2 separate regions of the Homo sapiens genome follow, and region 2 is linked to region 1. Evidence: fine-mapped expression QTL. A gene starts in region 1. The other region holds a variant in brackets. All regions are shown on one strand. Distances are between the middles of the regions. Region 1 holds the start of KRT72 (keratin 72). Region 2 overlaps KRT2 (keratin 2).

Region 1 (5,376 bases):
AATAGTTCACTGCCCTAAAATTGCTCTAGCACTAAGCATGTTAATGGGCCTAGAAAGTCCTGCAATAAGATGCCTGCTTCATTTTTTTTTAAACCAAGCACAGAATCCATTCCCATATCTTTTTTTCCCATGATACCTATTAACTTCCCAAGAAGTAGTGTTACAGGGCAAGGAGACCCAGTTTAACCAGCAATGCATTTTCAATTCTCAGCCTAGAGTGGTTTCATCCGTCTTTTGTAGTAAAGATCTGATTTCTAAGGGCAATGTTCCTTGTCTGGTTTACTAATCCAGGGGTTGCTTTAACCCAAGAACTAATGACAGAGGTGGTCACCAAGGCCTGAGGTGACACCGTAAGCTGCTGTCAGAGGCAGAGGCAATGAGAACCCCTCCTCCCAGGCCTCAACCCCCTTTGATCTGCTGACATCCCCACACATCTGAGGCCTTTGAAATCTGCATGTGTCACTTGTGTCTCCTCATGATCTGTAATAAAGGTGATTCAGGGGTTGAGGAATTCCTTATTCATCCAGCCAGTCAACCCCTCATAGGAAGATGAGAAAAGGTCATCTTACAGTTCCCTAACCCTGGGCAGAAGAGCCCTGGTCCCAGGATATCTCAACTCCTTAGAAAATTTCTAGGAAGAAAAAAAAAATTATTTCAAAGACACCCTTTGTCAGTCAATCCTACGTAAAAATTCTCCTCTTTCAGTGTAATCCATTCCTTGCTTTTCTATTCTCAATGGCTGGAATAAATAAATTCATTTTTGTGCTTGTGGAAAAAAAACTGGCTAAAATTACGGGGTAGAGGGAAAATCTCATGTAATAATAAAAAACATAACCTTGATCTTCTTGAAGGGTCTGCTGTCACCCAGCCACACTGACACTGCCCTTCTCCTCTTCAGAGGGAAGGGACTACAGCCCCTCCTCTGAGGCAGCACTGAGAGCCCACCCTCTCTCCCACCTAGGACACCCAGATGCCGTTATCTGTTCATCTGTGATCGGTGCCATCTCCAGCGCTTAACAATGCCCTCACAACTTTGTTCCCCGTGGAGTAAACGCTTCGGCTGTTATTATGTCCTGTCATTGGCCCAGTGGAGGCTATGTCAGCCAATTACCCCCAGGTACCATTTAACCAACCCATGAGGTCCCCAAGGGGAACCCAGCCTTCAGGGTATCACTGAAGGTGCAGTAACAAGCCTTGCCCTAAGCACTCTGCTGTTTCACAATCATCCTAAATGTCCCTTTGGCCAAGGCCTGGGCTGAGCACTGGGGGAGCAGAGGAGGGAAGGGTGAATCCAGGGGGCCCTGTCAATCTGATAGAGGAAATGGAACACACACCCAGGACTCTGGCAGCTTAAGAAATAAGAGCAATGAAATAATCCCACCTGCATGCCAGAGGAACAGGAGAGCTGTTGCTAAGAGAGGAGGAGACTTGAAGGCAGCTTAAGTTTGAGAAAAGGAAATCGGGTTAGGTGGAAGAAGGAGCCTCTGTAGCTTAAAGGGAATGAAGTTCTAGAATCTAGTTCTTGGTTTTAGATCTGAAGAGTCTTGACCTCTTCCTAATAACTGATCACATTTTGATGCTGAATCAGAAATGACTGGGTGGCAAATGACCTGAGCAGAGGTTTGCTGGATGGGATAAATAAGCCTCTTCTGCTATTAAAAGAAAACAAAAATGAAAACAACCGAAAGCCTTAGGAAACACCATCTGCTAAACCATGCCTGAGTCTTCCTGTACCACCTCCCCAGGCCTTCTTCCCTCCCTCCCAGATAGCATGGTCCCCATTCTTAGTCCAGAAATGCTTAGTGGAGAAATCTTTTCGCTCTGGTCCAAAGTCAACCCTCAACACTTGTGACCAGAGGTCTCTGTGTCCTGCCTTCTCCAACAGACTGAGAGGTCTCTGCAGACGGGGCCAAAATCTCCTCCTTCTGAACTTCCTTCTTGCACAAGGGACAGAGCTGTCCTCATCCAGAAGCCTGGGAGGCAGGAGGAGGACAGGCTAAGGATGATTTTCTGCGATAGTCTTGACTCTATTCATGGCCTTCTGAAGCAGAAGCAGCCTGGACTTCTGCTTCACACACCTCCGTCTCCCCAGACACACACCCAGAGGGTCAGCCCCACTGGAAGTTTCCAGGGGTGATCTTGGGAGTGATAACCCCAGTAATTGGAGGCCAGCAGGTGGAGATAAGGTCGCTAAGCCATGATAATGCAGGAGGTGAGCCAAGTAAATGCTGGGTTCTGGGTCACTTTACAGGGATTCATGGGGAGTTCACGGTGGAACAGACAAAAATCTCGGTGAGTGCATGGTAATTTCCTACATGAAGAACCCAAGAGGCCTCAAGGGATCTAAAAGGTGTTGTCGACATACAAATTAGGCTGACTCCAGCCAGCCAGGCTATTTAAGGGGCGAGCTGGGCCGAGAACGCAGCGGCTGTTTGCGCCCCTTCTGCCTCCCGCGCGGCCAGCACCGGTACTTGCGAGCCATGAGCCGCCAACTGACCCATTTCCCCCGCGGGGAGCGCCTGGGCTTCAGCGGTTGCTCCGCGGTCCTCTCTGGCGGGATCGGCAGCAGCTCCGCCTCATTCCGGGCCCGGGTCAAGGGCTCGGCCTCCTTTGGCAGCAAGAGCCTCTCCTGCCTTGGGGGCAGCCGAAGCCTGGCGCTCAGCGCTGCTGCACGGCGGGGCGGCGGCCGCCTGGGCGGCTTCGTGGGCACCGCCTTCGGCAGCGCCGGGCTGGGGCCCAAGTGTCCCTCCGTGTGCCCACCCGGGGGCATCCCTCAGGTCACCGTCAACAAGAGCCTCCTGGCCCCGCTCAACGTGGAGATGGACCCCGAGATCCAGAGGGTGCGCGCCCAGGAGCGGGAGCAGATCAAGGCGCTAAACAACAAGTTCGCCTCCTTCATCGACAAGGTGAGTCCTCGGGCATTGGCCTGTCCCTGCGTTGGGCGCATGTGCACAGTGGTGCTGGCTCTGCCACTGGCGAGCTGTGTGGGAGCGTGGGCGGGTCATAACCTCTCCGAGCCTCCCTTTTCCATTTGTAAAATGGGCACAATAATGGGTCTTACTCCAGTGGGTTGCGATGAGGCTTAATTGGGATGTTTACGAAGTGCTCAGAACAGTGCCTGGCACATACTTCCAATAAACAGGATGTATTAGCCCATTTTCATGCTGCTGATAAAGACATACCCGAGACTGGGAAAAAAAAAAAGAGGTTTCATTGGACTTACAGTTCTCCATGGCTGGGGAGGTCTCAGAATCATAACGGGAGGCCAAAGTCACGTCTTATATGGCGGCGGCCAGAGAAAAATGAGGCAGAAGCAAAAACGGAAACCCCTGATAAACGCATCAGATCTCGTGATACTTATTCACTATTAGGAGAATAGCAGGAGAAAGACCGGCCCCTATGATTCATTTACCTCCCCCCTGGGTCCCTCCCACAACACGTGGGAATTCTGGGAGACTTAATTCAAGTTGAGATTTGGGTGGGGACACAGCCAAAACGTATCAAGGACCTTCATTTCTTTCTTGCATGAGACAAGACTGTGAGAAGGGAGGGGTCAGGATGTCCAAGGAATGGGCACTTTGAGAGCTCCCAATATCAGAAGAGGAGATGGGACCCACATTCAGGGCAGGGCATTAGGAACAGAGGCCAAGAGACGTTGCAGGACATGGTGCTTGGTGCTTGAGGAGTGGGGTAAGTGTGTAGCCAGGAAGATGATAGAGGAGGTGAGAGAAAAGGGCCAGAAAACTGAAGGGTGAGGCTGAGGAGGCACTTGGAAAGAGTGCATGTAAAGTTACAGGTGTGTGCTGAGGGTGGGGCATCCAGAAATTGGGGTAATAGGGAAGTTGTCTCTGGAGCTTCTGAGGCAATGACCCCAGTGAGTGGAGAGGAGACAGGGAATGGACTTCTCTTGTCTCCACCTGGATGGAAGGTCTAGACGGTGAGTGATAAGGGGACAGCCTGATAACAATAGCTGACATTTATGGTGCCGTCCCAAGTGATTCTCATTTACAATCACAACCCATGATTCTGTTGTTGTTCTGCCTTGCAGATGAGGATATTAAGACATGGGAGGCTAAGAAATGAGCTCACCTTGGACAGGACAGTTGGTGGTGGACCGAGTGTCACCACTATGCTAGGGAAGAGGAATTGAGGTGGCGGGAGGGCACAGGTCTGCATGGAAGAAACACAGCAGCTATTCCAGAGGCCAGAGCATTCTCTTGCTCTTTTATGTCTGTTGTTCCCTAGCATGTTTCCTTCTGCCCCTCAAGCTGAAAGATAGGTGAGAAGAGGAATGCTGGTGTGTGGCAGAGGGCTTGGAGTTATTGAGTCTAAAAATGTGCACCCTGGTCAAGTATGAAGGAACTTTGTGAAGATGTGGTAACTTGCTGTGAACAACAAAGAAATGAACAAACCAAGTGCAATTTAGGCTACACAACAGGAGGAACGCTCTAAATGCCAGTGTGCTTTCCAATGTCACTCCCCAGTCCCTGTTTCTCCCCTGCTCCCCATTTCTCTTTACTCAGAAAACACCAGCATTTATAGCATGAGAAGCTACCTCTGTCTCATGAAAACTCACTGAGGCAGAGGCAGATGGTACCATTGCTTAAGCCCTCTTCCTGATTCCATATAGACCGGGTCCTATTTCTTGTCTTGGAGATCCAGGTGAGCATGTCCCTCGGCTGAATCCACCCCGGGATAAGCCTTGTTTTCTCCTACCCCCAGTCCCCCAGGATGGCTGCCTCTGGTTTTTGGGGCCCTTTCCCCACTCTTGAGAGGCAACAACATGGGGACTCTGGGCGATGACTGCCTTTGGGTTCCAGGTGCGGTTCCTGGAGCAGCAGAATCAGGTGCTAGAGACCAAGTGGAACCTCCTACAGCAGCTGGACTTGAACAACTGCAGGAAGAACCTGGAGCCCATTTATGAGGGCTACATCAGCAACCTGCAGAAGCAGCTGGAGATGCTGTCTGGGGACGGGGTGAGGCTGGATTCGGAGCTGAGGAACATGCAGGATTTGGTGGAGGACTACAAGAAGAGGTGAGTGAGTGGCAGGGAATATGGCCCTGGAGGATCTGATTTCAAATGAGGTTTTCGTTTGGAGATGGCATTTTTGCTTCTGAGATCCTTGCTGATACCGGGGGAGGGAGGAACATCCAGACAGAATGGAACTAGGAAAAGAATAGATCTACCTACACCGGTTCTCCAAACTGTCGAGGAAATGTGTGCTCAATTTCTAGCACTGAAAATGAAGGAATGGGGGAAAGAGAGTTGTATCAAAACCAGATGGACAACCCAAATGCCTTTGTAGTTCCTCCTGAGTGAAGTTTTCCATGGCAGTTCCCAGAATGTAAGACACCCCACCAATTCCAGGGCAAATT
Region 2 (5,376 bases), 41 kb before region 1:
AACCTCATTTGCAATTCATATCATGTGCTGTCTGCGTGATGTCAAACCTTGGTGGAAGTGGGCAGCCATGGACAAGGGAGGTTTGGGCATTAAGGAGGGGCTCCTGGGTGAGGAGCGTGCCTCCCTGAGGGAAGCCCAGGCGCCAGCCTCTGGATGAATGGGAGCCTGGGGATGGGTGTGTGGTTCTCAGAAAGTATTTACCAGACTTGAGGGCCATGGCATTGCCGGGAGGTGGACAGGTAGATTTGTGGAAGAGTCTCTTTTCTAGAAAAACCCATTCTTCCTGAGCATTTCCCACAGACTGCCCTCTCCCTTTTCCACAAAGGCTTTGGCCCGGGATCACTTCTCCTCAGGGCAAAACCGCTGAGCCCCTGGCACCATCGTGGTGAGTTTCCAAGCTCCGAGCTTCCAAGGCAGACCTTCCTCAGCCTGATGTAGGTCCTGGCCTCTGTCTCTGCGGGGGCTCTGAGCAAGCCTGGAGGAGGATACCTGGGAAGAGTCTGGAGGACTCTAAAGTGGCCTCCAAAACAGCCACTTCTATTTTCACAGGACACCCCTCCTGTCAGCGGAGTCCCACCACACTCAGCAAACAAGCCCTTCTCTCCTCTCTCACCGCAGCCCCCGGGGCCTGTCGCATGGATGTTGCCATCAGGTTGGCCTTCTCCTGTGGGTGTGAAGATGCCTTCAGCCCCTTCCTCAGGAAGGCCATGTCACCTGAGCAGGGCTTCCAGGGAGTTCAGGAATGGTTGGGCAGGTGGGATTGGGCATGCTTGGGGTTGGTGTTAGACAGGCCAGAGTTGCCCAAATGGGAGTTGGTGGCTCAGGCTAGGTCAGCTTAGCTTTCTGTATGTGGCGTTTGGTTATAGTAGCTGTGGCTTAAAGCCACTCAGAACCACTCCTGGAGGGTCCTTTTTTCTCCCACTCCACCCCAGCTTTAAAACCTTGGAGAGTCCTTAGTTGAGTCTGTGACCGTCTTCCTGTTCCCAGAGGTTGCAGGGACGGCTCTAATAGAGAACAGATGCATTCACTTGCCTCCAGACCAGCCAGGACCCAGGTATGAGGGTGCTGCAGGAACAGCTCTGAAGGCTGCAGGTGGCAAGGTGGCAAGACTCCAGGCTGAGCATTCTAAAGTGATCCGCTGATCAGAGAAGGTCCCTGAGAACCACCCAGGCCTCAGTCGTGGGGAGAGGTCTGTGGGGAGAGGGTGCAGGTTGGGAAGAAGTGGTGTGAGGAGCTGGCTGTTTTCGGGTATGTACATAGTGTAGACATGAACACAACCTTTAACAGGGACTTGGTCCCAGACATTTGAGGCTGGACAGGAGCTTTGGTAATCAGTGTATTTGAACTTTTCACTTAGGTGAGGAAAAAGGTAAGGCCCAGGGTGGACACAGAAACCAGGTCTCCCACTCCCAATTTATTCATTTTTTAAAAGGCTTTGGGAATAGCAATCCATTCTAATAACTTTCTGAGGGGAAAAGAGGTGAGGCAGGTAAGGTGGCAGATTTATTCCCAGGGGAGCCTTAATTCTATTTTTTTTTTTTTTGAGATGGAGTCTCACTCTGTTGCCCAGGCTGGAGTGCAGTGGCATGATCTCAGCTCACTGCAAACTCCGCCTCCCGGCTCAAGTGATTCTCATGCCTCAGCCTCCCGAGTAGCTGGGATTACAGACATGCACCACCATGCCTATCTAATTTTTGTATTTTTGGTAGAGACGGCGTTTTACCATGTTGCCCAGGCTGGTCTCGAATTCCTGACCTCAAGTGATCTGCCTGCCTCAGCCTTCCAAAGTGCTGGGATCACAGGCGTGAGCCACTGCACCCGGCCTTAATTCTTGAGACTTTCAGTGGTCTGAACCTCTAGCTCCTTCTATCGTTTCCAGTTCCCCATCCCTTCCCCACCTGAGACACAGCCCTTCTGGTTTCCAGATCATATATATGCTACTTTCTTGCTGGACTCCAGTAGTAAAATTAGCCTTGTACATTAACTCAGAGGGACCCAGGCCTGAGGCGTGACAGAAATCAAGCTCTAAGCAGGTATTGGAGAGAGGGGCTACCTCTGGAGAGGGACCCTCCTTTCCCTCCGAAGTGTAGAGTAGCCCAGAATCTGGGCCACACCCTCCCACCAGGGCCCTCTGCTGCTCCTCCACCAAATTTGGTAATTGACTTGTCAGGTCCTGGGCTTCAAAAAGGAGACAGGCACAGGCAGAAGGGTTTTACGAGCTCGATTTCCATAGGGAACTGGGTTAAACATTTCCGTTCTGATGATGTTG[C/T]AGAATATTTGGGACATCCTCCCTCTTGTGGTTCCCTCCCTTTCTCTGCCTGTGAGTTTTAGTATGAATTCAAATAAACCCTTTTTCTCTTCCTCACCAAATTCTTTCTTTCCTGTCATTTGAAAGGAAATTCCTTTGGACATTTCACCTCCTTCAGGACAGCTCACCTCCTCCAGGAAGCCCACCTAAATGGAACACTCCTGCCTCCTTTTCTTGCTGTGAAGTGGGGAAGGAGTGCCCTGGGAGTGAGGAGACTTCAATGCTGATCCTCATCTTTGTGGGAACTGTTGCGTGACACTGGGCAAGTCCTTTCTCCTCTCTTGGCTCAATTTCTGCCTCACTTTAAGGACTTTCAGTGGCCAAGATTGTTTCTACAGATCCTTCCAGCTCTGATGAAAAGAACCCTGTCTGTGCTACCGGGTCAGCCAGTGCTTACTCCTAAAGCCTTTCAGCCCAACAGGGGATTTGGGACACTGTCAGGATATCCAGAGAGACCCTTTGTGAATAGGTGTGAGCATGTGAAGCTCAAAGTGGTTTTCATTCTAGTTCAGTAAATGCCTGTTGGACAATGACTGTGGGCAAGGTTGTGCATGTGGCTACGTGGGCGTATCAAGACTTATAAGACAGTGCGTCCTGTCAGGGATTTATGGTCTAGTAGGGGAAGAATGAGAAATTTGCAAACAGCTATTAACATAAGGCAGAATGTAGTAGTGTGCATTAATTTCATTAAGCGGCCCTTACTAAAAATACATATTCTTTGTTCCAGCATCCCCTCCTTCTCCCTGAGTTTCCACTACAGAGGAGTCTAGAAATCTGCATTTTTAACAACCTCCTAGGTGATTCTGATGCTGGTGACACAAGGGCCATGGTTTGGAAAGCACTGATGGACATGCTAAGGGAGCGGGCTCTGGGGTGGGCTCAGTTGCTGGCACCTTGGAATTTAGTAGGCACTAAATGAAAAGTTGATGATCAGATAAAAGAATGTGTGACCCTGGGCAAGTTATTTAACAACTCTGAGCCTTTCTTTACTCATTTGTAAACAGGTAGCAACAACAGCTTCCTCAGAGGATTGCTGGAGGTTTACACACTGAAATCAATGATAAATGTTTATTCTGTAGGACCTGTGCCATCATAAGCATGCAGTACTGTAGGTTACATTATTATTATTATTGTAAGTTACAGGCAGTATTTTGGGACCGGAGAAGACCTCATGGATGAGATAACTTTATATCCAGGCACTGGCAGATAGGTGGGATTAATTAAAGAGTAATAACAATTCTGCACGAACTGTTTCAGAAGATGGAAGAAGAAACACCTTCCATCTTGTTTTATAAGGCCAGCATTAATGGAAGAAACTAAAGAACAAATCCCTCATGGATATATATATATATATATATATATATATATATATATATATTCAAAAATTATCAGCAAGATATGAGCAAATTCAATCTAGAAAGATATAAAAAGGATAATACATCATGACCATGTGTTTAAAAATATTGTTTAAAAATAGTGAGGTATATGTTTAAAATGTATCCCAGAAATAAAAAGCTTGCTCAACATTCAAAGAATTAATGTATTCACCATATTGACATAGAAGAAAAAAACATAAGACTGTATCAATAGATACAAAACATTTGACAAAATTCAACACCCTCCATGGTAAAAACAAACAAACAAACAAAAACAACAACAACAACAACAGATTCTTAAACTAGGAGTAGAAGGGAACTTCGTTAGCCTGATAAAGGGCATCTGTAAAAACCCATGGCTAACATACTTAATGGTGAAAGTCAATGCTTTTCCCACAAGCATTTCTTGGGAACAAGCAAGCGTATTTGCTGTCACTACTCCTATTCAGCATCGTACTGGGATTCCTAAATAGTGCAATAATGCAAGAAAAATAAATAAAATCCTACAGATAGGAAGAAAGAAATAAAACTGATTTATTAATATATGATGTGATTGCATATGTAGAAAATCCAAAGGTATCTTATTAGTCAACATATTTCTGTATTGAGAAAATCTTGATTTATACAGATAGATGGGTGTAAATGGTAATGATATTTGTAACTAATTAGACTTGAAATTTCTGATTACTTTCCATTGAAAGATAGATGGCAGGGGAAGCTGTAGTTCAAAGTGCAGAACGCTGAGTTAATCTAATGCATTGTTGAACTCCAGTAAATTAAAATTTACTACAGATCACATTCGAATGTGCATGCTGTTTATTTTAAAGTCAACTTTAATGAGGATTCACTTATAAATAAGAAAATGCATTGTATTACATTTTAAGCATATACCTCAATATTTTTAAACAAATGTATACATCCTTATAACCTCTATCACAATACTTATATAGAAGATTTCCACTACTCCAATGAGTTACCCTATGCCCCCAGCCAACTTTTGATCTCCTTGTCGATACCACTGACTGGTTTTGCCTATTCTAGGATTTCTTAGGGTTGATGTACCTCCTCTCCAACACTGGGCATTGCCAGTCTTTTTCATTCTACAGGGTGTGCATGTTATCTCTTTGTAGTTTTAATGGCATTTTCCTGATGACTTGTGATGTGCAGTGTCTTTTTTTGGTTCTTATTGGGCGTTTGTACATGTTTTAGGAAAGGTCTGTCCAAATCTTGTGAAAGTTTTTATTGGGCAGTTTGACATACATAGTTGCAGGAGTTCTTTATATACTCTGGATAACAGTCATTTGTCAGGTATATGTATTGTCAATATTTTCACTCAGTGTGTGGATTTTCTTGTCATTTTCTTAATGGCATCTTACAAGCAGCAGAATTTTCTAATATTGATTAATTCTAATTTATCAAATTTTCTTTATAGTTTGGACTTTTGGTGTCTTAAGAAATCTTTGCTTACCTAATGGTCACAAACATTTTCTCCTACAATACAAACTTTTATCCTAGAAGTTTTATAATTCTAGTGTTTACATTGTCTATACCCCATTTTAAGTGGCCATTGGGGTATGGTCTAAGGTAAGGGTCCAAGTTCATTTTATTCCCCCAAGTAAATATCCAGTTGTTTGGGCACCAGTTGTTCAAAAGACTATTGTTTACTTGTTGAACTACCTTGGCAACTTTGTC

Evidence for each region.
Region 2: its variant is fine-mapped to the expression of KRT72 in unexposed skin (GTEx, PIP above 0.99).

What each region holds. Positions count from the first base shown.
Region 1 is chr12:52,598,557-52,603,932 of GRCh38, reverse strand. KRT72 (keratin 72) reads left to right here and starts at 2,470. Exons shown (of 9, transcript NM_080747.3): 1 at 2,470-2,906; 2 at 4,821-5,035. The coding sequence starts at 2,481.
Region 2 is chr12:52,639,200-52,644,575 of GRCh38, reverse strand. KRT2 (keratin 2) reads left to right here. Exons shown (of 9, transcript NM_000423.3): 9 at 1-18. Among named protein-coding and RNA genes, the nearest start is that of KRT2, 10 kb to the left of the region's middle. The variant C/T (reference allele first, on the strand shown) is at 2,270.